Linked DNA regions of Homo sapiens. The protein of the gene in region 3 interacts with the protein of the main gene of each other region in a pairwise test. Each region holds a gene or a part of one and is shown on either strand. Other genes may lie near its edges.

Evidence for each region.
Region 1: the proteins of VPS52 (region 3) and ZC2HC1C interact in binary tests that used the Homo sapiens proteins (3 or more experiments, as listed by UniProt).
Region 2: the proteins of VPS52 (region 3) and KIF9 interact in binary tests that used the Homo sapiens proteins (3 or more experiments, as listed by UniProt).
Region 4: the proteins of VPS52 (region 3) and EPM2AIP1 interact in binary tests that used the Homo sapiens proteins (3 or more experiments, as listed by UniProt).

The regions. Positions count from the first base shown.
Region 1 is NC_000014.9:75,065,418-75,072,640, reverse strand, and holds the start of ZC2HC1C (zinc finger C2HC domain-containing protein 1C), read right to left. Parts: upstream 3,001-7,223; 5' UTR 2,892-3,000; exon of another isoform or gene 2,693-2,891; intron 2,087-2,692; 5' UTR 2,068-2,086; coding exon 730-2,067; intron 1-729. Other genes in the region: ACYP1 (acylphosphatase-1 isoform c precursor), read left to right, coding at 3,350-3,431.
Region 2 is NC_000003.12:47,227,467-47,230,809, forward strand, and holds the end of KIF9 (kinesin-like protein KIF9), read right to left. Parts: intron 1,237-3,343; coding exon 1,186-1,236; 3' UTR 532-1,185; downstream 1-531. UniProt on the Homo sapiens protein: Essential for normal male fertility and for progressive motility of spermatozoa.
Region 3 is NC_000006.12:33,249,778-33,254,917, reverse strand, and holds the end of VPS52 (vacuolar protein sorting-associated protein 52 homolog), read left to right. Parts: intron 1-27; exon of another isoform or gene 28-220; intron 221-2,946; coding exon 2,947-3,058; intron 3,059-3,211; exon of another isoform or gene 3,212-3,281; coding exon 3,282-3,400; exon of another isoform or gene 3,401-3,405; intron 3,406-3,930; coding exon 3,931-4,077; 3' UTR 4,078-4,640; downstream 4,641-5,140. UniProt on the Homo sapiens protein: Acts as a component of the GARP complex that is involved in retrograde transport from early and late endosomes to the trans-Golgi network (TGN).
Region 4 is NC_000003.12:36,990,091-36,997,692, forward strand, and holds the start of EPM2AIP1 (EPM2A-interacting protein 1), read right to left. Parts: upstream 3,042-7,602; 5' UTR 2,988-3,041; coding exon 1,164-2,987; 3' UTR 1-1,163. Other genes in the region: DNA mismatch repair protein Mlh1, read left to right, coding at 3,458-3,573, 6,529-6,619.

The DNA.
Region 1 (7,223 bases), on a different chromosome or scaffold from region 3:
AAGTTCACCTAAATTTATCATGTAAGTGTCACGAAACCCTTACTTTTTCCAACCTGGTTTTTCTAAAGTGAGAAATAATTGGCAAGGGCATGGTTTGTAAGATAACCAGAAAGAAAGTCCTTTTTACCTTCAAGGTGTTTACATTCTAAATGGGCAGAAAAAGAATTCCAAACTTAATTGTGTTTCATCTATTTACTAAGAAGCTATGTTAACACTGAGCTAACCTTAAAAGAGTGAATAGTTAAAGGAATGGTCACAGATCCTAGTCTTGGGAAGTGGCAGAATACATTGCAAAGAGTGAGGAGTTCTCTCCAGGTGACAAAAGGCTGCATTTTTTTCTTTAGATTTTTTGTGTCTTTTAAATTTTCTACAGTAAACTTTTATTACTTTTATAATCCAAAGGACACAAATTCTATGTCTAGATTTTTTAGTCATTCCAACCAAGATTTATATGCCGACTCTGCCACTTAAAGCTGTTTGTGACCTCAAGCAAGTTACTTAGCCTGTCCAAGTCTTGATTTTTGAACTGATACAATGAGAGATAATGTGGAGATCACATGAAAAGCTCCCGTCACAATGCTGGCATACAGTAGTAATCAAGAAATGTTAATTCTAGACGTCAATTCTTCCTACATGACACATGAATTTTCCCTAAAGAAAACTGATGATGACAAAACAGACCCCTACAATGATCACCACACCAAGTCACATCCATAAGGCTCTTGTTACCTTGGCTGAAGCTGGCCCCTTCCAGTTCAAGTACTGCTCTAGTTCTGTGCCCTTAGCCCGGGCCCTGGAGGAGTCAAACACTTTCCTCTTGGAACCCCGCATCCTGCTGCAGATGTTGGAGTGTCTCTCCAGCCTGAACGAGAGGAATTTGCGCCCACAGTGGCTGCACTCACCCAGCTGTGGCTCTTCAATGGAGCCGCTGGAACCTGAGGAGTCTGGTGCCATGGACAGGCTGGAATTTCTGGCGGATCCCTGCAAAGCACCGACTGGTGTTTCTGAAGGCGGGGAGAATTTCTCCACCGATGGCTCTGAGACTGGGTCTCGAATTTTATTATTGCTTGCTACCAGCCTTTCCCTTTTGAGCCTCTGGATTCTATAATCAGAGAACTGGAATGGACCTGAATTTTGTTGAGACCGTCCCCAAGTTTCATCCTCTCTCCTGTCTCTACTAAATTCTTCCTCAAACTCAAATTCTGGGGAGAAGATAGGTTTGTACATGGTGTTGCTTTTATTACCTTTAACTCTGCTCCTGGGGAGTATAATTTTCTGTAGCTCTCCGTTTTCATTTTCCTTGGCCTGTTCCTTTTGCGTCTGGATCCTTCTGAGTTCCTCCTCTGTCTTCTTCAGCTTTCCCCTCAGGAGAATCTGCTTTCTTCGGATTTCCTCCTCTAAGCTCTCCCCTGCAGCTTCTAGTCTTCGGATCTGCACCCACTCCGTCCTGTCAAAGTTTGCCACGGCCTTCTCCGCCTGCGTGGCAGCAAGAACAGTACCAACCACAGAAAAGTTGCCCTGGTTCCTCACACCAAAGTTCCTAGATGAAAACTCTCTCGGCTCAGGGGGCCTTGGGTAGACATTATGGTCCCCATCAGTGCCAGCCTCACCTGTACTGCACGACTTCCTGTGGACCATGGGTTTCAATGGGAACGCCCGGTCCACTCCAACTCGTTTCTTTGTAAAGGGGATAAAGTCCTGGTTATTGGCTTTGGGATACCAGGATTGAGGGCCTGACGAGTAAAACAAACCATTTCCTTGGCCCTGGGAATCACTTTCTGGATCTTGCTGGCTGATTCCAGTACAGTGGGGATAGGAGTAGCTCCGGGCTTTTGTTTGGGTGTTCCATTTGGGGTGAGTATAGACTTTATCCAGAATCAACTCTTTGTTGCTCAAAAGCTGCTTCTGGAAATTGTTCCTCAGGTGCCCCTTCAAGGACTGCTGGGAAGAGTCACCTTGTTCGTAAGAGTCTTGCTTGGCTGAGTGGGGCCCTGGAGCTTCCGTTGTATTATGTGGGAGCATAACGCCCACAGGCAGATGTGACGCCAACCGCTGGAGACCAGCCATTCAGGGCCTGGACTGACGCCTACGGGAGATTTAAACCAGATACACGGGAAGAGTTTGTCTGAGGTTCACTCTCGGCTGCTAAAGCAAACTATTTCTACATTTGCCCTGCCCACATTCCCTTAAACTTTTCTGGGGACAGTGTTGCTGGACCTGCCAAAGCTTCCCTTCAAAAACCATTTGGTGAGTGATTATGCACAAGACACTGTGTTAGGCCCTGAGGGTAGAAAAACGAAGGTGCTACAGGTGTTCCTGCCACCTAGCTTTCCTTTCCTCCAGCACCAGCCTCTGCCACGCACAGTATACTCTATAGTAGGTGGAAAGAGCACCTGACTAGAAAGTCAGGTTCTAGGCCTGTAACAGGACAAGCGACTTCTCCCTTGCTGGCCCCCGTTTCTTCCCCTGTAAACTGAAGGGTTCCCGCAGAGTCCAGCCTCACCATTTTACAGGTGAGAAAGCTGTGGCCCAGAGGTAGTGACTGGCACAAAGAACTCTCAGGGCTTCCCTCCTGCTGGAACCGTGCTTGATTCCAAAGAGCACAAAAGCTGCTAGGGCCTGGAGCAGGTGCCTGGCTGTCAAACCCTCATCCCAGGAGTCCCCGTGGCGCAGACTGTAAAAGTTTTGTAACCTGAGCGTTGAGGGCCACCTGACCTGACCGCGGCCGGTTTTAGATCCTTAAGGCTGAAGTCACGTTTTGTCCCGAAGGGTCAACTGGGGCGCCCCCACTTCGGACTCCACCTCTGGGGACAAGTCCTCTCGCTCTCCTGCCCTTCGGTCCCTTAGGAGGTGGAGGTGCTGATCCCATGTCTCCCCGCCCTTCTGCGTACCTGAGGCCCTCGGGCACCGCTCCTGCTCAGGGAAAACCCCAGGGCCTAGTTTCCCAGACCTGACCTCCCCATCAACCGACAGCCGCGCAGGCGCTCTCAGCTGGCTTCTGTTATTCCCGGTGCCTGGAAACCGAGGCACTGGCGCGCCAAGCTCCGCCCCTCGCCGCGAACTCCTCGGGGAGACGCGCGCAGGCGCAGTGCACCAGCGACCCGGGGCGACCGGGGGTGGGGGTGCGGTCAGCCCAAGGTCACTTGACCCAGTCAGTGTCCGGCCAACTCTGCAGCTCGGTCCAGCCCTGCCCTTGGGGAGCCGGGGAGGGGCGGGAGAGGCTTTTCTGGAGCTCCTTCAAAGAAGAACTTGTACTTTTCTGAGAACGACGCTCCCAGACCTTGGGGTGTGCCCTTGTCTGGCAAAGGGCGGAGGCCCTGGCTGTGCCTCCGCGTGCTTCCGCCGCAGGATGCCGGCGTCCGCCCGCCTGGCGGGAGCGGGGCTGCTGCTGGCCTTTCTCCGCGCGCTCGGCTGCGCTGGGCGGGCCCCAGGTATGGCTGCACGCGCGCGCTCCTTGCTTGTCCTCGCCAAGGCTTTGGAACTTGCTGCCAACGTTTTTGCTACGCAGTATCTTTCCGTGGTAGTTTTTGTGGCCAATCTAATTATTTTGATATTATAATGTTTTACTCACGTGGTAATTCTAGCCGTCTCTACTTAGGGCCCAGGAATGACTCAGCCAAATGTAATGATGATAAAGTTAACTACCAGATCGAAAATAATCAGTATAACCTGGCTTCAACAGTAAATGATACTCTATCTTGTTGACATCAAAAGAAAGTTCATTTTTCTTCTTCGCTTCAGTTCATCTGTGTAAGCCGTTTGGAACAGGCAGTTCGCTTTTTCCCTGTAACTACTCAATTCATGCACATGGAAAATAATGTAGACAGCAGTCATCAGTGTTAATACTTCAACATGTCATATTACAGCTGTTACCCGTTACAAGGAAATTCCTTGGTGGACCCTCCAGATCAGTCTTTTTTTTTTTTTTAATTCCTCGTTTTCATCCCTAGTTGACTCTACCGCCTCTCCGTATATGCAGCTCCAGACGTTTCCCACTCCACTCAGGGTCCCGATTATCAACTCCCACAGCTTCCCTCAGCAGAATTTACCGGCTTTCTTTTTCTCTTTCTCTCTCTCTCTGTCTCTCTCTCTTCTTCCTCCTCTCCCTCTCTCCTCTGTTTCTGTCTCTGTCTGTCTCCCTCTCTCCTCTCTCTCTCTCCTTCCCTCTCCTCTATGAGAAAGAAGGGCGACTTTCCATTGAGTTCCATTGAGTTCTCTTGAATTAGTCCTTTTCAGTACCCTCCGGGAATTGACTCCATCACTTTACCCCTGCATTTTTGTTTTGTTTTGTTTTCTGTTTTGTTGGTTTTTGGGGTTTTTTAAAGTTGTTTGTTTTTTGTTTTTTGAGACGGAATCTCGCCCTGTTTTGTTGCCCAGGCTGAAGTGCAGTGGCGCACTCTTAGCTCACTGCCACCTCTGCCTCCTGGGTTCAAGTGATTCTCCTGCCTCAGCCTCCCGAGTAGCTGAGATTACAGGCGTCTGCCACTACACCTGGCTAATTTTTTGTATTTTTAGTAGAGACAGAGTTTCACCATGTTGGCCAGGCTGGTCTTGAACTCCTGACCCCAGGTGATCCGCCTGTCTCAGCCTCCCAAAGTGCTGGGATTACAAGCATGAGCCACCGGGCCTGGCCTTTGTTTTTGAGACAGGGCCTCACTCTGTTGCCCAGGCTGAAGTGCAGTGGCACAATCACTGCTCACTGGAGCCTCAACTTCCACAGCTCAAGTGATCCTCCCACCTCAGCCTCCCGAGTAGCTGGGACTACAGGTGTGTGCCCCCCACACCCAGCTTACTTCTTTTTTTTTTTTCTGTAGAGACAGGGTCTCCCTTTGTTACCCAGGCTGGTCTCAAACCCCTGGAGTCAAAAGAGATCCTCCCGCCTCAGTCTCACAAAGTACTGAGATTATAGACGTGAGAGACGGCACCCTGTCTGCATCTTGTTAACTTCAAGTTATACCTCTCCATAAACTCTGTCTCTTTGGTTTTAACATATACTCAACTTTCCCCTGCAAAACAAACCTTACTTCCCTTGACCTAACTTTCATATTACAGTCCCATTCATTTCTCCTCTTCTCCACAAGACTTCTTAATGGAAATCTCCACATTTGCTGCCCACATATCCTCATCTCCCCGTCATTGTCCAGTTCATTGTGGCCTGTCTTCTACTTTCTCCACTTTATTTAACTACAAAGCTACCAGTGACTTTCCAAAGACAAAAGCTTCATTTTTTCAGCCTACTCATGTGACATTACTGATTATCCACCCACTTAGAATGCTCTTCTCAGTTCTCCTGTGCCCTCTTGGTTTCTTCTTTCATGTTCTTGCTCCATCTTCTTCCAAGTCTGGCATTTATCTTTTCCCCATCTACTCCCTAAATTTAAGTGTTTTCTGAAGCCCTCTTATTTCATATATATGTGTGTGTGTGTGTGTGTGTGTGTGTGTGTGTGTGTGTGTGTGTAGTTCCAGACATTCTCTTCTTTAATGATTTCAACCAAATGCTGAAATTTCAGGTTTCACCTGTGTTTAAATGACAGCCAGCTTAGCTTTAGTCTTTCTCATTAGTTACAGACTCAAATTTCAGGACTGCCCATTTGACACCTCCACAAGATTGTTCCTTAGGAACCTCAAATTCTGTAAGACAACATAAACTCTGATCCTCTCCCATTCTCAAATCTGCCTCTCCAGTGTGCCCTTGCATGCTCACAGCATCAGTCTTCCATGCTTCCCTCTTTGTTGCCTCTTCCTTCTAACTAATCACAAGTTTTATTGAGTTTTCTTCCTTTTTTTCTTTGAGACAGTCTTGCTCTGTCATCCAGATGGGGGTGGAGTGGCGCGATCTCAGCTCACTGCAACCTCTGCCTCTCAGGTTCAAGCAATCCTCCTGCCTTGGCCTCCCTAGTAGCTGGAAGTACAGGTGTGCACCACCACGCCCAACTAATTTCTGTATTTTTAGTAGAGATGGGGTTTCATCAGTCTCAAACTCCTGACCTCAGGTGATCCACCTGCCTTAGCCTCCCAAAGTGCTGGGATTACAAACGTGAGCCATCACGCCTGGCCTATTGAGTTTACTTCTGCAATGTCTCTCATATATGACTCTTCCTTTACATTTCTGCTGCCCCAGGTGAGTTTTTCCTCACTTCTCCTTGGGATGGCATAGCCCTCCTAACTTCTGCTCTTGCCTTCAATATCTGCTCTTCAAACCCATCCTTCATGCTGCAGGCAAAATAATCAGTCTAAATATTTCTCCACCCCCCCCCAGCTTTATTAAAATATAATTGACAAGCAAAAATTATATCTATATTTGCAGTGTACAAAGTGATGTTTTGATAATGTATGCATTGTGCAGTGATTAAATCAAGCTAATTACTAAATGCTTCTGATCCTACCATTTCCCTCCCCAGTAGCTTCTTCTTTACCTATAGAATAAAGTTGAAATGCATAATTTAGCATGGCATCTCTACCTCCCAGATTAGGTCCAGCCTACCTTTTCAGTTTTGCCTCCCCTTAATAAGCCACAGAGTTCAACCCAGTGAGTCTCATCCCTGACTGTGTGTTAAGACTACTTGGAAAGCAATATCTAGGGGTGAGGCCTGAGGATTAACATTTTTAAAGCTTCCCCAAAGATCCTGATGCACAAGCAGGGTAGCAAACCCCTGGTCTAGCCACAACTGGCTACTTGTACTTCTTCATCTCCATGGTACTACATTACTCTAAGCTCCACATACTGGGAGCTGGTAGAGCATAGCATTCATGGGGATTGACTCTGGAACCAAATCCCAGCTCCATCACTTACTGGTTGTGTGACCTTGGATTAAATGCTGTTTCCTCCAAGAACTCTTTCCCTGTCTTCCCAATCAGAATTAATTTGTTTGCTCCTTTGTAATATTTTCTGTCCTTGTTATAGCACAGGGCTGGTTCCTGATGAGCTCTCAATGGATTTTCATGGAATTAAATTATCATGCCATATATTTTATTGTCATTATTTGCATGCATTTGTGCCCCTACACTAAATTAAAAACTCTTTGAGGGCAAAGATTTTATATCATTCATCTTTGTATATCCTAGAGTGCCCCATTCGTATTAGACACTCAGTAAGTTTTGAATTCTATAAACTATTTTTTAAATGAATTTTAGAGAAAGAAATACCATTAGCAAGATACTCTATTTAGAGTTATTTTCAAATATTGCCAAGTACAACATTCAATCCAGCTTGTTCACCACCA
Region 2 (3,343 bases), on a different chromosome or scaffold from region 3:
ACAGGACTGCCAGGTGAGCAGAACCTCCTCTCCCACTGTTGGAAGAATAACAGAAACCTCAAGGCCCTGATGAGGGTGTCAGACGGGGGAGCACCCACAGAGTGTCAGGCCAAGGCCTTGACCCATAAGAACAGAAGAGGGGGTGAGATACAATTCCAAGGAAGCACTGAAACTTTTCGCTCAGTGGAGACTTGGTTTACCAACCCAGGGGCGTATCAGTCAGCCTGGAAGGCCCCAGAGGGCCTGAGTTTGTTCTCTGAGCAAAGTAATGAACTCTTTCCCTTTGGTGCCACCACCAAGGGCCCAAGCTGCAGCCTGGTAACTTGATAGAGAGTGATATCTTCTCTCTTCCCTGCTCAGCCTTGACAGTGATCCCAGTTCCTATTCAGGGTAAATCGTTCACTTTCACTTCTGCTCAGTGCAGCCTACACGGAGAGAGAAAGCGGGGAGGGGAGGCACCCTGGTGCCTGGTGGCCGTGCATGCTGCGTAGGGAAGGCCGTGGTGTTCTGGAAACATGCAGAGGACATGTCTCCCAGAAGCTGCTCATTTATTCCCTGGTACATGGAGCCAGCTCTGCCTCATCCCTTTCTGGTCTCTGTGGCTAGACCTTATCCTCCCCTGGTTGCCAAATGAAGGAGGGCCTCCTCCTGTCTTCTTCACTGGCTCAGAAACACAGAAAAGATGTCTTGAGAGAACTTAGGGTCTGAGGGAGCTGTGAGAAGCAGAGCTCCTCAGACCGAGCTCACCACCCCCACCCTAGGATGTCTATCCAGGAAAGGGGCTGACCAGTGTGACAAAGGCCTGCCAGGAGGAGCCTGGCTGAGCTACTTTTCTGCCTTCCTACTTGAGACTCAGTTCTGACCTCACACATACATAGAGAATATGTCCTTTCAGACAGGAAATAAGACAAAGTTCTCAGATGAGCACTGAAAGTCCAAACTAGAAAGTTATTTTATCCTGTCCCTGCATATAAGACAGTGAATTAAAACCCAAAGTGCTCTGTGGAGATGAGCAAGGTTGTCCTTGGAGGATGCTCCTCCCAACATGCAGGCCAAATGTGTTCTCTGTGCTGGGTCCCAGCATTGGAGTAGAGGGGGCTGCAGCTCTGGGCAGGTGGTTGAGCAGCTCCACTACAGTAGGTGGGAGTTGCTGGTCTTGTCCTTTAAGGTACTGGCGATGAGGTTCTATTTTCTATGTGCCTGCTGGAGGCCCATCATGGTTTTCAAGTAATTATGCTGGACACAGAGGGAAGAGAAAACAGGAACTTATTAGGAGGGACAGACATAGCAGGGACTCAGACCAGGCCACTCACATTCACCCTATCATTCCTCCTGCAAACATCATGGGTTGTGGACAAGGATTCCTTCTGAGTAGCCCCAATTCTCTGAGAAATAACATCCATTCAAACTCTTTCATTCTTTTATCCTAAAGAAAGTGTGTAAAACTATTTTAAAACAGTCTGGCAGGCATATTTGAAAGGAGGCATATAGGTTTCAAGGGCATTCTTGGGAGTTTCTGATAGGGAATAGGTTCAGAAAGAAAAGAAGAGGGTTCTATCTCCAGAGGAGTTAGGGGCCAGGTATTCAGAAGGGCCCTCTCTTTGCCACTGCAATCAATCAGATGTTCACAAATTATACCTTTTTAATGCATCACTAGGCTCTTAGAAAGCAGGTGAAAACTGTAGGCTGAAACAGAAACAGTGGGCTGTAAGCCAGCAAACGCTAAAACTAGCTTGGAACATGGAATCTTAGGTTCCCCACAAAGTAGGAGTCTGAATTGAAGCTCCCATATTAAACTGGAATTCTTGAAGAGGGTTAAAATGGTCCTGGGTTGGTAATGCCCCATGGGTAACTGCAGAAAGCAAGTGCAAACCTTTTCAGGGGGAAAATAATTTCTATTTATGTGTTCAGGTCTCCTTGAGCTTAAGTTCAATCAAACACAAGGTCACGATTTCAATACACACACAAACACACACACATACACACGCCACTGTCAAGCCACCATGAGACTCAGTAAAACAGGAAACAGATTTTGACCATGAAAAATCTGATCTATATGTTTCCTATATAAAAGTATATATTTAAATAACTAAAACATAGAATTGAAAGAACATGGAATGGTTCGAGTATAACATTTGCATAAAAAGTCTGTGCATGGGCATATCTTAAACATTAAAAATGGCCAACACAGAGAATTATAGAGATTGGGGAATGAGAGAATAGAATTTTGACCTGTAGAAATACAGGACTCCTCTGCTTAATGATTTAGAATTTTTTTTTTTTTTGAGATGGAGTCTCGCTCTGTCACCCAGGCCGGAGTACAGTGGCGCAATCTCGGCTCACTACAACCTCTGCCTCCCGGGTTCAAGCGATTCTCCTGCCTCAGCCTCCTGAGTAGCTGTGATTACACGTGTGCACCACCATCCCCGGCTAGTTTTTGTGTTTTTAGTAAAGACAGGGTTTTACCATGTTAGCCAGGCTGGTCCTGAACTCCTCACCTTAAGTGATCCACCCACCTCAGTCTCCCAAAGTGCTGGGATTACAGGCGTGAGCCACCGTGACTGGCGAGTTGCACATTTTAAATGGGTGAATTGTATGGTATGCAAATTCTGTCTCAATAAAGCCTTTTAAAAAGCATAAAATAAGAATTTATTTAAAATAACTATCTGGGCACAGGGGCTCACGCCCATGATCCCAGCACTTTGGGAAGCTGAGGTGAGATGATTGCTTGAGCCCAGGATATCAAGACTGCAGTGAGCTATGATCGTGTCACTGCACTCCCTCCAGCTTGGGTGACAGAGCAAGACCTTGTCAAAAAAAAAAAAAAAAGGCTGGGTGCAGTGGCTCATGCCTGTAATCCCAGCACTTTGGAAGGCCCAGGCAGGAGGATCCCTTGAGTCTAGGAACTGAAGACCAGCCTGAGCAACATAGGGAGACCCAGTCTCTATTTTTAAAAAATTGTTTTTAATTAAAAAGAAAAAGAATGCCAGGCACGATGGCTCATGCCTGTAATCCCAGCACTTTGGGAGGTCGAGGCGGGTGGATCACCCGAGGTCGGGAGTTCGAGACCAGCCTGACCAACAGGAAAAATCCCATCTCTACTAAAAATACAAAATTAGCCGGTAGTGGTGGCGCATGCCTATAATCCCAGCTACTCAGGAGGCCGAGGAAGGAGAATCGCTTAAACCTGGGAGGCAGAGGTTGCAGTGAGCCAAGATCACACCATTGCACTCCAGCCTAGGTGACAGAGGAAGACTCCATCTTGTGGGGGAAAAAAAAAGAAGTTACCCAGGCTGGGCACAGTGGCTCATGCCTCTAATCCCAGCACTTTGGGAAGCCAAGG
Region 3 (5,140 bases):
GATCGCTTGAGCCCAGGAGTTTGAGACCAGCCTGGACAACATGGTGAAACCCCATCTCTACAAAAAATAAAAAAAAAATGAGTGGGACATGTTGGCACATGCCTGTTAGTCCCAGCTACTCAGGAGGCTGAGGTGGGATAATCACTGAGCCAGGAAAGTTGAGGTTGTAGTGAGCTGTGATTGTGCCACTGCACTCCAGCGTGGGTGATGGAGCAAGACCCTGTTTCCGAAAAAAAAAAAGAAAAAAAAGATATACTTAAAATTTATTCTAAGATGAAGTCTTCAAAATCAGGTGTATATATCATGCTTACAACACATTATATAATTTATGGCTCCTGCCTAGCAGGGGTCATCACTGTTAGTTCAACTTTTCTTTGGCAAGTCTACTCCCTGTGCCCCACCGTACACTGCTACATTATTGTTTGTATATGTGTGTGTGAGACTGCATTTAGGCAACTGTAATAGGTTGAATTTGGTTATTTAATCTCTGTCCAAAATCACATCACAAAGATGCCTTGATTATAGAAAGATCCTTCCTTGCAGCATATTAGTTATTTGACACCCTCAGTGGATATAAGTGAATATTTTGAGGGAAGAATAGAAAAGATACAATTTTTATTTATTTATTTATTTATTTATTTACTGAGACAAGTTGCTGCTCTGTCGCCCAGGCTGGAGTGCAGTGACATGATCTTGGCTCACTACAACCTCTGCCTCCCGGTTCAAGTGATTCTTCTGCTTCAGTCTCCCTGAGTAGCTGGGGTTACAGGCATGCACCACCACACCTGGCTAATTTTAGTATTAATAATTTATTTTTAAATGGAATAATAATTTCACTTTCTTCTTACCAGATCTTTCTGTCTGGGTTGTTTGCTTTTATGAGTTTTTTTGTTTGAATCTCCCTTTTACATTAAACAAAAATTAACATTTTATTATGGGAAATTTCACTATGCTATTAGAAAAGCATAGTGAACCCCCAGGCATCATCAGTGATATTCGGTGTATAGCAGTTCACGGACAGTTTTGTTTCATCTATACCAACACCTATTGCTTATCCTCCTTCTGTGTCCCCCAGTTACTTTGAATTAAATCTTATACATATACAGATGAATATTATCACTTCATCTGTATCAGAATGTTATTTTTATTAAGAAAATTATTTTTGAGATAGGGCCTTGCTGTAGTGCCCAGGCTGGAGTGTAGTAGCATGATATAACTCCCTGCAGCCTCGAACTCCTGGGCTCAAGTGATCCTCCCACCTCAGCCTCCTAAGTAACTGGGACTACAGGTGTGTGCCACCACACCTGGTAACAGATGGTTTTAAAAACTACAATACATTATCACACTTAAAAAAATTATCTTATCTAAAATAACTATTCAGATTTTCCCAGTTATTTCATAAGTGATTTTTTTTTTTTTTTTTTTGAGACACAGTTTCACTCTTGTTGCCTCCAGGCTGGAGTGCAATGGCCCGATCTTGGCACACTCCAACATCTGCCTCCCGGGTTCAAGCAATTCTCCTGCCTCAGTCTCCTGAGTAGCTGGGATTATAGACACCCACCACCACGCCCAGCTAATTTTTGTATTTTTAGTAGAGACAGGATTTCACCATGTTGGCCAGGCTGGTCTCAAACTCCTGACCTCAGGTGATCTACCCGCCTCAGCCTCCCAAAATGCTGGGATTACAGGCATGAGCCACTGTGCCTGGCCTTCATAAATGATTTTTATGGTTCAAATCAGGATCCATATAAAGTCCATATATGTGTCTTTTTTTAGTCTATAGATTTCCCTTCCATCTCCTCTGCAATTTATTTTTGGAAGAAACTGAGTTATTGAGTCATTTGTCATCTAGAATGATGTACAGTTTAGATTTTGCTGACTGCATTCCATGGTGTGGCCAAACTTCCTCTGTCTGGTGTATTTCTCATAAGTGTGTAATTAGATGGAAAGGCTTGGTCAGATTTAAATTAGTTTTTTTTTTTCTACAGGGATATTTGAGAGGTAGTGGTATGTATTTCCATCAGGAAGCACATAATGTCTTCTTGGCTCTCTTTGTGATGTTAGTAGCCATCAATTTCAGTGCCTAGATACATTAATTAGATTTCTGTATCTCCTACTATCTCAAAATTTTCCATCTTCTGTCTGTGCTACATTCTGAGTCCTTTCTTCAGTTATAAATTCTAATTCATTGTATAATTCTTGTTAATCTGTTGACTTTCTAAAACTGGCTTTTCATATCTAAAAAAATTTCCTTTTTTCAAGTCTGTTCATTCCTCATAGTTCTTACTAATTGGTCATTTTTACATCCTTTTTTTTTTTTTTTTTTTTTGAGACGGAGTCTTGCTCTGTCATCCAGGCTGGAGTGCAGTGGCATGATCTCTGCTCACTGCAACCTCCGCCTCCCAAGTTCAAGTGATTCTCTTGCCTCAGTCTCCCGAGTAGCTGGGATTATAGGCATCCACCATCATGCCCAGCTAATTTTTGTATTTTTAGTAGAGATGGGGTTTCATCATGTTGGCCAGGCTGGTCTTGAACTCCTGACCTCAGGTGATCTGCCCACCTCAGCCTCCCAAAGTGCTGGGATTACAGGCGTGAGCCACTGTGCCCGGCCTATCCTTAACTTTAGACATTGCACACAGTACAACTGCTATCCGTATCGGATAGTTCTTAAGGTCAGCAGCTATTGCTTATTGTGTCTGCTGACTCTCTTGGTAGCTGCCCTTCTTTTGTGTCTAGTGATCTTTGAGTTCATTGTTTGATCTTAACCAGGGGAACTGTATGGGCCAAAATTAGGATTGAGGATATTTTTCTCCATAGAGGATTTTCCTTAACTTTTGCAGCAGCTGAAAGATGCCATTCAGATGGATCTACATTAGTCATGATGCCAGAATTGGGCAAATCTGCTGACACCAGGACACCTGTGTATATGTGTTTGTGTCTTTCCAGGAATTCATTGAAGAGTTGCTGTCTCCCCCTTTTGGGGGTTTAGTGGCATTTGTGAAGGAGGCTGAGGCTTTGATTGAGCGTGGACAGGCTGAGCGACTTCGAGGGGAAGAAGGTATGAGGAAAATATGGTAATGATGGGATCAGTGGTAAGGGAAGTGGAAAAGAAAAATGAAAGGATGCAGATTACATGGTGGGGGAATAGAGTATGAAAGACTGGATTGAGAGAATACCAGAAAAGAGGGTTTGATGATAAGGATGGCTATACCTTGGGGAGAACTTAGTGGAGTTGAAGATCAGCCAGATCCCTCTCTGACACTGTTTCCTCCTGCTATTAGCCCGGGTAACTCAGCTGATCCGTGGCTTTGGTAGTTCCTGGAAATCATCAGTGGAATCTCTGAGTCAGGATGTAATGCGGAGTTTCACCAACTTCAGAAATGGCACCAGTATCATTCAGGTGACCTGCAAGTCCCAGGCCCCACTCAGATCCCCCATCATTAATTATTTTCCCCATCTTTTTGCTGGGCTCAGCATCATCTAAGTGACCCTTGGTCTTCAGTTACTAGCTGTGCCCAAAGTTCTGTATGAGCCCTAACCTGATTCTTTTTTTTTTGTTTGTTTTGTTTTTTTTTTGAGACAGAGTCTAGCTCTGTTGTCCAGGCTGGAGTGCAGTGGCACAGTCTCGGCTCACTGCAACCTCTGCCTCCCAGGTTCAAGTGATTTTCCTGCCTCAGCCTCCCAAGTAGCTGGGATTACAGGTGCCTGCCACCACAACCAGCTAATTTTCGTATTTGTAGTAGAGATGGGGTTTCACTGTGTTGGCCAGGCTGGTCTCGAATTCCTGACCTCGTGATCTGCCCGCCATGGCCTCCCACAGTGCTGGGATTACAAGTGTGAGCCACTGCGCCTGGCCGCCTAACCTGATTCTTAATCATCACTATTAGCACCATTTTACGGTTTGATCCCTCAATGACTTTCTTTGACCAGGGAGCGCTGACCCAGCTGATCCAGCTCTATCATCGCTTCCACCGGGTGCTGTCCCAGCCGCAGCTCCGAGCCCTCCCTGCCCGGGCTGAGCTCATCAACATTCACCACCTTATGGTGGAGCTCAAGAAGCATAAGCCCAACTTCTGATGTGCCAGAAACCGCCCTGAGATCTGCCGGTCATCTCCATGGACTTCTGCACCCCATTCCATACCCTTCTTCACCTGGGGTACCCCTTCCAGTTTTCCCCTTGCTTCCCAGGCCCTTGACATGGCTTACCTGCCTTCACTCCCAGCACCTTGCCCAACAGGATAAGCTGGATCCCCTTGGCCTTCTGAATATCCCAGTGTCTTCAGGTTTCCCAAGACCACTTCCCTGTGGGCTTCCAAAATGGCCTTTATCATTTCTCCAGTCTGTCACCCTCCTTTCCTGCTCCCATACACCCAAGGCTTGTTTCTTCCCCTGTAAAAACCACTGCCTCAATCTCTGGTTCACTCAACTAGTCACCATGTCCTGAGGCATGAAGCCTCCTCAGCTCTTGGAATTGCTGGCAAGGGGTGACTGCCTCTGAGTCATTGTGTTTTTCAAAGTGATTTCTTTTCTGTAGCTTTTTGACCTAAGATCTCAGCAATTTGAACACTAACCTCTCCCCTCCTGGCTCAAGAATTACTCCGAAGTCAGTCTGCAGAAAATAAATATTTAGTATGACATGACACTTATCCCATTTCCTTTCTCCTTCCTCCTGAAGGTTTTTCAGGTGGCCCCATCTCTAGAATGACCTTTCCTTTCTGACTACTTCCTGGGCTTACATCCCTTCTGGTGGGTGTAACCTCTAACCTCTAGCTACTCCCAGGCCATTGGAGGAAGGTGGCCCCTGGCTAAAATAGCAGATGCTGCAAGGGATGAGAACCAGGCCGCGCAGCCCCAGACACTGTCCCAAGGGCTCCCTTGGGACAAGCCCAAGCTGACTCTGGAATCCCTCCTCCGTAGCAGCTCCATAGCTCCTCTGGTTGTGGCTGTGACAGCCCCTTGCTCGGGGGCTGCAGCACCCAACCCACACCCACACCGTTGGGGCAGGGCTAGACCAGGCGAAATTCGTACCATCCGTTTGTTTGACTTGGAGCCTTCCTGCTGTCCTCGCCTATACGCCTCGTTTGAACTTAGGCTCTAGACTGGAGAGACACGGGGACCCCTTTAAGGCCTAAGAAGAGAG
Region 4 (7,602 bases), on a different chromosome or scaffold from region 3:
GAAGTTTGGAAATTACTGTTTTGGCACAAAGCAGATTATCTTAGTAGAAATACAGAATTACTGCAATCTGTGAATAAGACTGCTTTTAAATATTTCTACTTGTGTGCTATCTTACATATAGAATGTGTACGACAGTTCCAAATTTTAGAATAAATCCATTTCTAGCATCTAACAAAATCTGATACTGTATCATTTTAAAACAAAGTGTTTACTTTAGGCAGGATTTTTTAAAATAAAGCAGCAATACCCACGCAGATAAGACAAAAAAGCTAAAATATCTCACACCTCCTAATCCTGGAGTGCAATCTTTTTTCCTCATCGTTTTTGATAGGGCCAAACTTGTGTCTACAGTAAAAAAAAAAAAAAAAAGAATTACTAACTGGCAACCATTAAGATTCTATACTTACCATAGTCCTTTAATAGGCAAGCTGATAAAATAGCCCCCAGTTATTAAAAAAAAAATCCAAGGAAAACCCCCAATAATTAGTCTTATCTCCAAATTGCATGAAGTCTCCTATATCTGAAACTTAAAAATGATTCTAATGACTTCCTCTATCAGTAATGTGTTATCACTGAGGTGGGTGATGGGGAGGGAAGAGGGAAGAAATCTGTCAGTATTACCTTCGAACTCAGAAATGTTTAAAAAAAAGTCTCAAACATTTTGATGGTTAGACAAAACACCTCCACTGTTATGTATGGGCTTCCTTTTTGGAAACTTATGAACTTGCTATGTGAGCTTCTGCAAATTGGTTCAAAAGCACATTTAAGGAGTTGATAATTTAAGACTATATGAATCAGAATTTTAACACTCCATTAAAATAAGAGCTGAAATTTTTGGCATTTATCTTCAGAACACCTAAAAAACAGACTGCAAATTCAACTCACATTAATACTAAATCTCTTTAAAATTAACTATATCATAAAAGACAATGACTTTGTCACTAAACTAAGTTTTAAAAAAGGTGGCATTCTCATGTTTCAGTCCCATGCTGCCATTTGAGATGAAAAAAAAGGCAACTGTCAGAATTTTAATTGTGATCAGTTTGGACGGCTGGTACTTGGTACTTTCTCACAATCCAAATTAGTAAACTTGAAAACTCAAACCAATTTTTGCTTTTAGAATTAAATTCTTGTTGAGTTTTTCAATCTTGTACTACAAAGCCTTATGGATTAGATTCATTTCTTTCTCTCACAAGGTCATCCCAACCGGGCTCCATTTCAGTTGTGGCAACCCGAAACAGGGCTTGGAGATGCTCATCTGTTAATGGCTGACTCAAAGTGTGTTGGTTTCGAGTCAAATATGAAAAAGCCTTTTCACAGATTTGGTTACTATCAAACAAGGATGCCACCTTACAGGCAACCCCTTTGATAATTGGGTAGGATTCAGCAGACAATCCAGCATAAAACTGCCCCAAGTCTTTGATTCTGTATTCATTCCAAAGATTAGTGTTTGCCTGAAGTTTTGTTAGCTCCACCCTCACTGAAATAGGTGCATATTCAGGTTTAAAGTTAAATGGATTTGAAAAAAGTTCTAAGTCCTTTTTAATGAACCTGAGGTCCTTAAAATGTCTCTCAAATTCTTTTTGGAGACGACAGATCACCATTTGATACCTATCAGGATCAAATATTTTTTCATCTTCCTTATTTTGCTGTTTTAGCTCATCAACAACTTCTCTGAGGGCAGGAAAGTCTGTTAGATTTTTTTCCTCAATATGTCTTTGAAATAAATTCAGCTTAACTTCGAAAGTACAAATATGGTCAAAGGCAGCAGCAGCAAAGACTTTACTAACTCGTAATTCTTCACTGAGTTCTCGAAGGTGTTCCATAATGTCCACCAAGAAGCCAAAGTCACAAAGCCATTGTTTGTCTGAGAAGTGGACTGTTGTTGCCCCTACTGAAACCAAGAACGCTTCCATTTCTTTTCTTAGAGAGAATATTAGTTTTAAAGTTTTCCCTCTCCTAAGCCAATTGTTCAGACATCGTCCATTAACCCTTTCACCATGCTCTGATTCAGATTCCGTTAGTAAAGTCTGAAATTCAGGTCGCCTAACGCCTCTGGTCTTAATCAAAACTATCCATTCGGATATGGTATTTATGATCTGATTAACATCTACATCATAGGAGCTCAACAGTTCCAAGTGAAGAAATCCTGAATAATGAATGACATTCCAACAGTTGGGGCTTACGGCCTTTTCTCTCATGTATGAGACGAGTCCTGAGTTCTCACCAATCATCCTCAAAGTATGGGTCGTGGTCAGTCCAACCATTCTCTGCAAGCTAAGCCCTGCTGTCTGCAGGGACTCTAGGATTGCCGACATGAGCGCACCAACACTGAAATGATGAGTCAGGTTGATTATGGTCAGAAGATCTTCTTGCACCTCCAACTCAGGGCCTACACCGCGGATAAAGACCAGGAGGTAGTTCTCATAGGCCACAAAAGCCTGGTCGTCCAAGGCAAGAGAATAGGCTTTAAAGTCCCTGGCTCGGTTAAAAAGCTGGTTGCGTAGATTCCTGTCAATGCTCAGGATCCTCTGCCTTGTGATATCTGGAGATAAGTCAACGCCTTGCAGGACGCTTACATGCTCGGGCAGTACCTCTCTCAGCAACACCTCCATGCACTGGTATACAAAGTCCCCCTCACCCCAGCCGCGACCCTTCAAGGCCAAGAGGCGGCAGAGCCCGAGGCCTGCACGAGCAGCTCTCTCTTCAGGAGTGAAGGAGGCCACGGGCAAGTCGCCCTGACGCAGACGCTCCACCAGGGCCGCGCGCTCGCCGTCCGCCACATACCGCTCGTAGTATTCGTGCTCAGCCTCGTAGTGGCGCCTGACGTCGCGTTCGCGGGTAGCTACGATGAGGCGGCGACAGACCAGGCACAGGGCCCCATCGCCCTCCGGAGGCTCCACCACCAAATAACGCTGGGTCCACTCGGGCCGGAAAACTAGAGCCTCGTCGACTTCCATCTTGCTTCTTTTGGGCGTCATCCACATTCTGCGGGAGGCCACAAGAGCAGGGCCAACGTTAGAAAGGCCGCAAGGGGAGAGGAGGAGCCTGAGAAGCGCCAAGCACCTCCTCCGCTCTGCGCCAGATCACCTCAGCAGAGGCACACAAGCCCGGTTCCGGCATCTCTGCTCCTATTGGCTGGATATTTCGTATTCCCCGAGCTCCTAAAAACGAACCAATAGGAAGAGCGGACAGCGATCTCTAACGCGCAAGCGCATATCCTTCTAGGTAGCGGGCAGTAGCCGCTTCAGGGAGGGACGAAGAGACCCAGCAACCCACAGAGTTGAGAAATTTGACTGGCATTCAAGCTGTCCAATCAATAGCTGCCGCTGAAGGGTGGGGCTGGATGGCGTAAGCTACAGCTGAAGGAAGAACGTGAGCACGAGGCACTGAGGTGATTGGCTGAAGGCACTTCCGTTGAGCATCTAGACGTTTCCTTGGCTCTTCTGGCGCCAAAATGTCGTTCGTGGCAGGGGTTATTCGGCGGCTGGACGAGACAGTGGTGAACCGCATCGCGGCGGGGGAAGTTATCCAGCGGCCAGCTAATGCTATCAAAGAGATGATTGAGAACTGGTACGGAGGGAGTCGAGCCGGGCTCACTTAAGGGCTACGACTTAACGGGCCGCGTCACTCAATGGCGCGGACACGCCTCTTTGCCCGGGCAGAGGCATGTACAGCGCATGCCCACAACGGCGGAGGCCGCCGGGTTCCCTGACGTGCCAGTCAGGCCTTCTCCTTTTCCGCAGACCGTGTGTTTCTTTACCGCTCTCCCCCGAGACCTTTTAAGGGTTGTTTGGAGTGTAAGTGGAGGAATATACGTAGTGTTGTCTTAATGGTACCGTTAACTAAGTAAGGAAGCCACTTAATTTAAAATTATGTATGCAGAACATGCGAAGTTAAAAGATGTATAAAAGCTTAAGATGGGGAGAAAAACCTTTTTTCAGAGGGTACTGTGTTACTGTTTTCTTGCTTTTCATTCATTCCAGAAATCATCTGTTCACATCCAAAGGCACAATTCATTTTGAGTTTCTTTCAAAACAAATCGTTTGTAGTTTTAGGACAGGCTGATGCACTTTGGGCTTGACTTCTGATTACCCTATTGTTAAATTAGTGACCCCTCTTAGTGTTTTCCTGTCCTTTATTTCGGAGGACGCACTTCGAAGATACCAGATTTTATGGGTCATCCTTGGATTTTGAAGCTTATAACTGTGACAAAAAATGTGAAGGGAAGAGATTTGAAACATGTGGAAGGAAAAGTGAGTGCAGACTATAAACTTCCAAAAAGACAAGCCCAAAATACACCTAAACGTTATGTCAGATTATTTTGTTAAAATCAGTTGTTAGTGACGTCCGTACGTTAATAGAAAAAAGAATGCTTCAGTTTGGAGTGGTAGGTTTCTAGAGGGATTTATTGTGAAAGTATAAACTATTCAGGGCAATGGGACTGAGAGAACAGTGGGTAGAAAGGACCACTGAAGGAAAGGAAGAGAATTGGAAGGTAGATGAAAGAAGGAGCAAGAACCTGGGGATGTTTTTTCCTTTTCACTTGTAATAGTAGTAACAGAAGCAATGGCAGACTGGCTTTTGTTTCTACTGTGTTAGAATGAATTGACAGGACAACTGGGCCTATTATTGTACTGTGCCAGAATACTGTAAAACAAAACTAAACATACTAGCTTGGTGGCTTGTAATTAATTACTTAAGTGGAGATTTTTATTTTTTTTTTATTTTTTTTTTAGACGGAGTCTCACTTTGTCACCCAGGCTGGAGTGCAGTGGCGCGATCTCAGCTGACTGCAACCTCCTCCTCACAGGTTCAAGGGAGATTCTCCTGCCTCAGCCTCCCGAGTAGCTAGGACTATAGGCATGTGCCACCACACCTGGCTAATTTTGTATTTTTAGTAGAGATGGGATTTCTCCATGTTGGTCAGGCTGGTGTCAAAACTCTCGATCTCAGGTGAACCGCCTGCCTCAGCCTTCCAAAGTGCTGGGATTACAGGCGTGAGCCACCGCGCCCTGCAGTTTTTTGTATTTTTAATAGAGACAGGGTTTCACCATGTTAGCCAGGATGGTCTCGATTTCCTGACCTCAGGTGATCTGCCCGCTTTGGCCTCCCAAAGTGCTGGGATTACAAGCATGAGCCACCGCGCCCGGCTCAAGTGGAGATTTTTATATGGAGTCCAGTTATACTCTTTTTAATATATAAGTTGAGATGACTAATACAACTTCAATACAGGGGCTCATGAGAAATGTCTGTAATATTTAAGTAACTTATTGTCTTCTTTCTTTTTTTTTTAAGATGAAGTCTTACTCTGTTGCCCAGGCGGAAGTGCAGTGGCGTGATCTTGGCTCAGGGCAACCTCTGCCTCCTGGTTTCAAGCGATCTTCCTGCCTCAGCCTCCCGAGTAGCTGGGAGTACAGGCGTGCATGACCACACCCGGCTAATTTTTTTATTTTTAGTAGAGACGGGGTTTCTCCATGTTGGCCGGGCTGGTCTTGAACTCCTGACCTCAGGTGATCCGCCCACCTCAGCCTCCCCAAGTGTTGGGATTACAGGTGTGAGCCCCCGTGCCCAGCCTATTATCTTATTTCTGAATAAAGAATTGTCTGTGTGGGGAATAGATAACTCTTTCTCATGCAGCCCCTGCTAGAAAATTTGTTTTCTCTAGCAGTTGGTCTGTGCTTATAGGCTACTCTTTGAAAGCACAAAAAATTTATTGACTTCTTTTTTTTGGGTTTTTTTTTTTTTTTGAGACAGAGTTTTGCCCTTGTTGCCCAGGTTGGAGTGCAATGGCGCGATCTCAGCTCACCGCAACCTCCACCTCCTGGGTTCAAGTGATTCTCCTGCCTTAGCCTCCTGAGTAGCTGGGATTACAGGCATGCGTCACCATGCCTGGCTAATTTTGTATTTTTAGTACAAATGGGGTTTCTCCATGTTGGTCAGGCTGGTCTCAAACTCCTGACCTCAGGTGATCCACCCGCCTTGGCCTCCCAAAGTGCTGGGATTATGGGTGTGAGCCATTGCGCCTGGCCAGAAAATTCATTGACTTCCTAAAGATTTATTAACTTTCTGCATTACTTTTTTTTTTCCCCTCCATCGTAAATATAAAAGGGAATAGTAGAGAAAATCATTCAGAATTTTATTTTTTAGTGACATTATTTAGTGACATTTTATTAGAGTCACTTAGGAACCTGAGGCTGAATAAAGTTCAGGTAAAAGTAAAATTAGTTGAGAAGAGACATCTGCCAAAAGAAATCTATTTTTAACTTCACTTGCTGTCTTTCCTAGAGGAACAGAAATAGTGCTGAATGTCCTATTAGAAATGATGGTTGCTCTGCCCGTCTCTTCCCTCTCTCTCACACAATATGTAAACTCATACAGTGTATGAGCCTGTAAGACAAAGGAAAAACACGTTAATGAGGCACTATTGTTTGTATTTGGAGTTTGTTATCATTGCTTGGCTCATATTAAAATATGTACATTAGAGTAGTTGCAGACTGATAAATTATTTTCTGTTTGATTTGCCAGTTTAGATGCAAAATCCACAAGTATTCAAGTGATTGTTAAAGAGGGAGGCCTGAAGTTGATTCAGATCCAAGACAATGGCACCGGGATCAGGGTAAGTAAAACCTCAAAGTAGCAGGATGTTTGTGCGCTTCATGGAAGAGTCAGGACCTTTCTCTGTTCTGGAAACTAGGCTTTTGCAGATGGGATTTTTTCACTGAAAAATTCAACACCAACAATAAATATTTATTGAGTACCTATTATTTGCTGGGCACTGTTCAGGGGATGTGTCAGTGAATAAAATAGATTAAAATCTATTCTCTTCTGATGCTTACATTATAGTGGTGGGAGACAAAATGGGTATAATAAATATTATATTAGATAGCATTAAGTGCTGTGGAGAAAACTAAAGCAGGGAGGAAGATAGGAGTGTGCAAGCCAGAAAGGTTGCAATTAAATTGAGTAGTTCAGGAAGGCTTCAATATGGATGTGATATTTGAGAGACCGGTGGAAGTCAAGGAGCAAGTTGTGAGGCTATTTAAAGGTATTCTTGGCTTACAGAACAATATACGCAAAGACTATTAAATGGAAGCATACCTGACATGTTAAAGGACTATCAAGGAGGCCAGTTTGTCTAGAGGCTGAAAAGGAAAGAGTAATAGGAGATGAGGTCTGAGTGAAAACACGTAAATCCTTGTGGGCCAAGGTAAAATCTTTAGCTTTTTTTCTGAATATGGTGGGATACTGTTAGAGGGTTTTAAGCAGAGGTTACGTGGTGTGGTGAGTTTTTTTTTTTTAATCCTTTGTCTTTCTGTGTGGAAAATAGCAGGACAGGGCAGAAGCAGTCTGTCCTGCAGACTGCTTGGTCGCAGTAGAGATGTAAGAAGCAGTGAGATTCTGGGTTAATTATGGAGGCAAAGTTCTCAGAATTTGCTGATATAGGGTATGAGAGAAAGAGGAATCAGGAATGATTTCAAGGTTTTGGTCTGCTAAATGGAAGGAGTTGCCATTTACTAAGATGGGAAAGACTATGAAAGAAGCAGATTTTCAGAGAGATCAGAAGTTCATTTTGGGGCATGTTCAATTTAAGATGCCTGT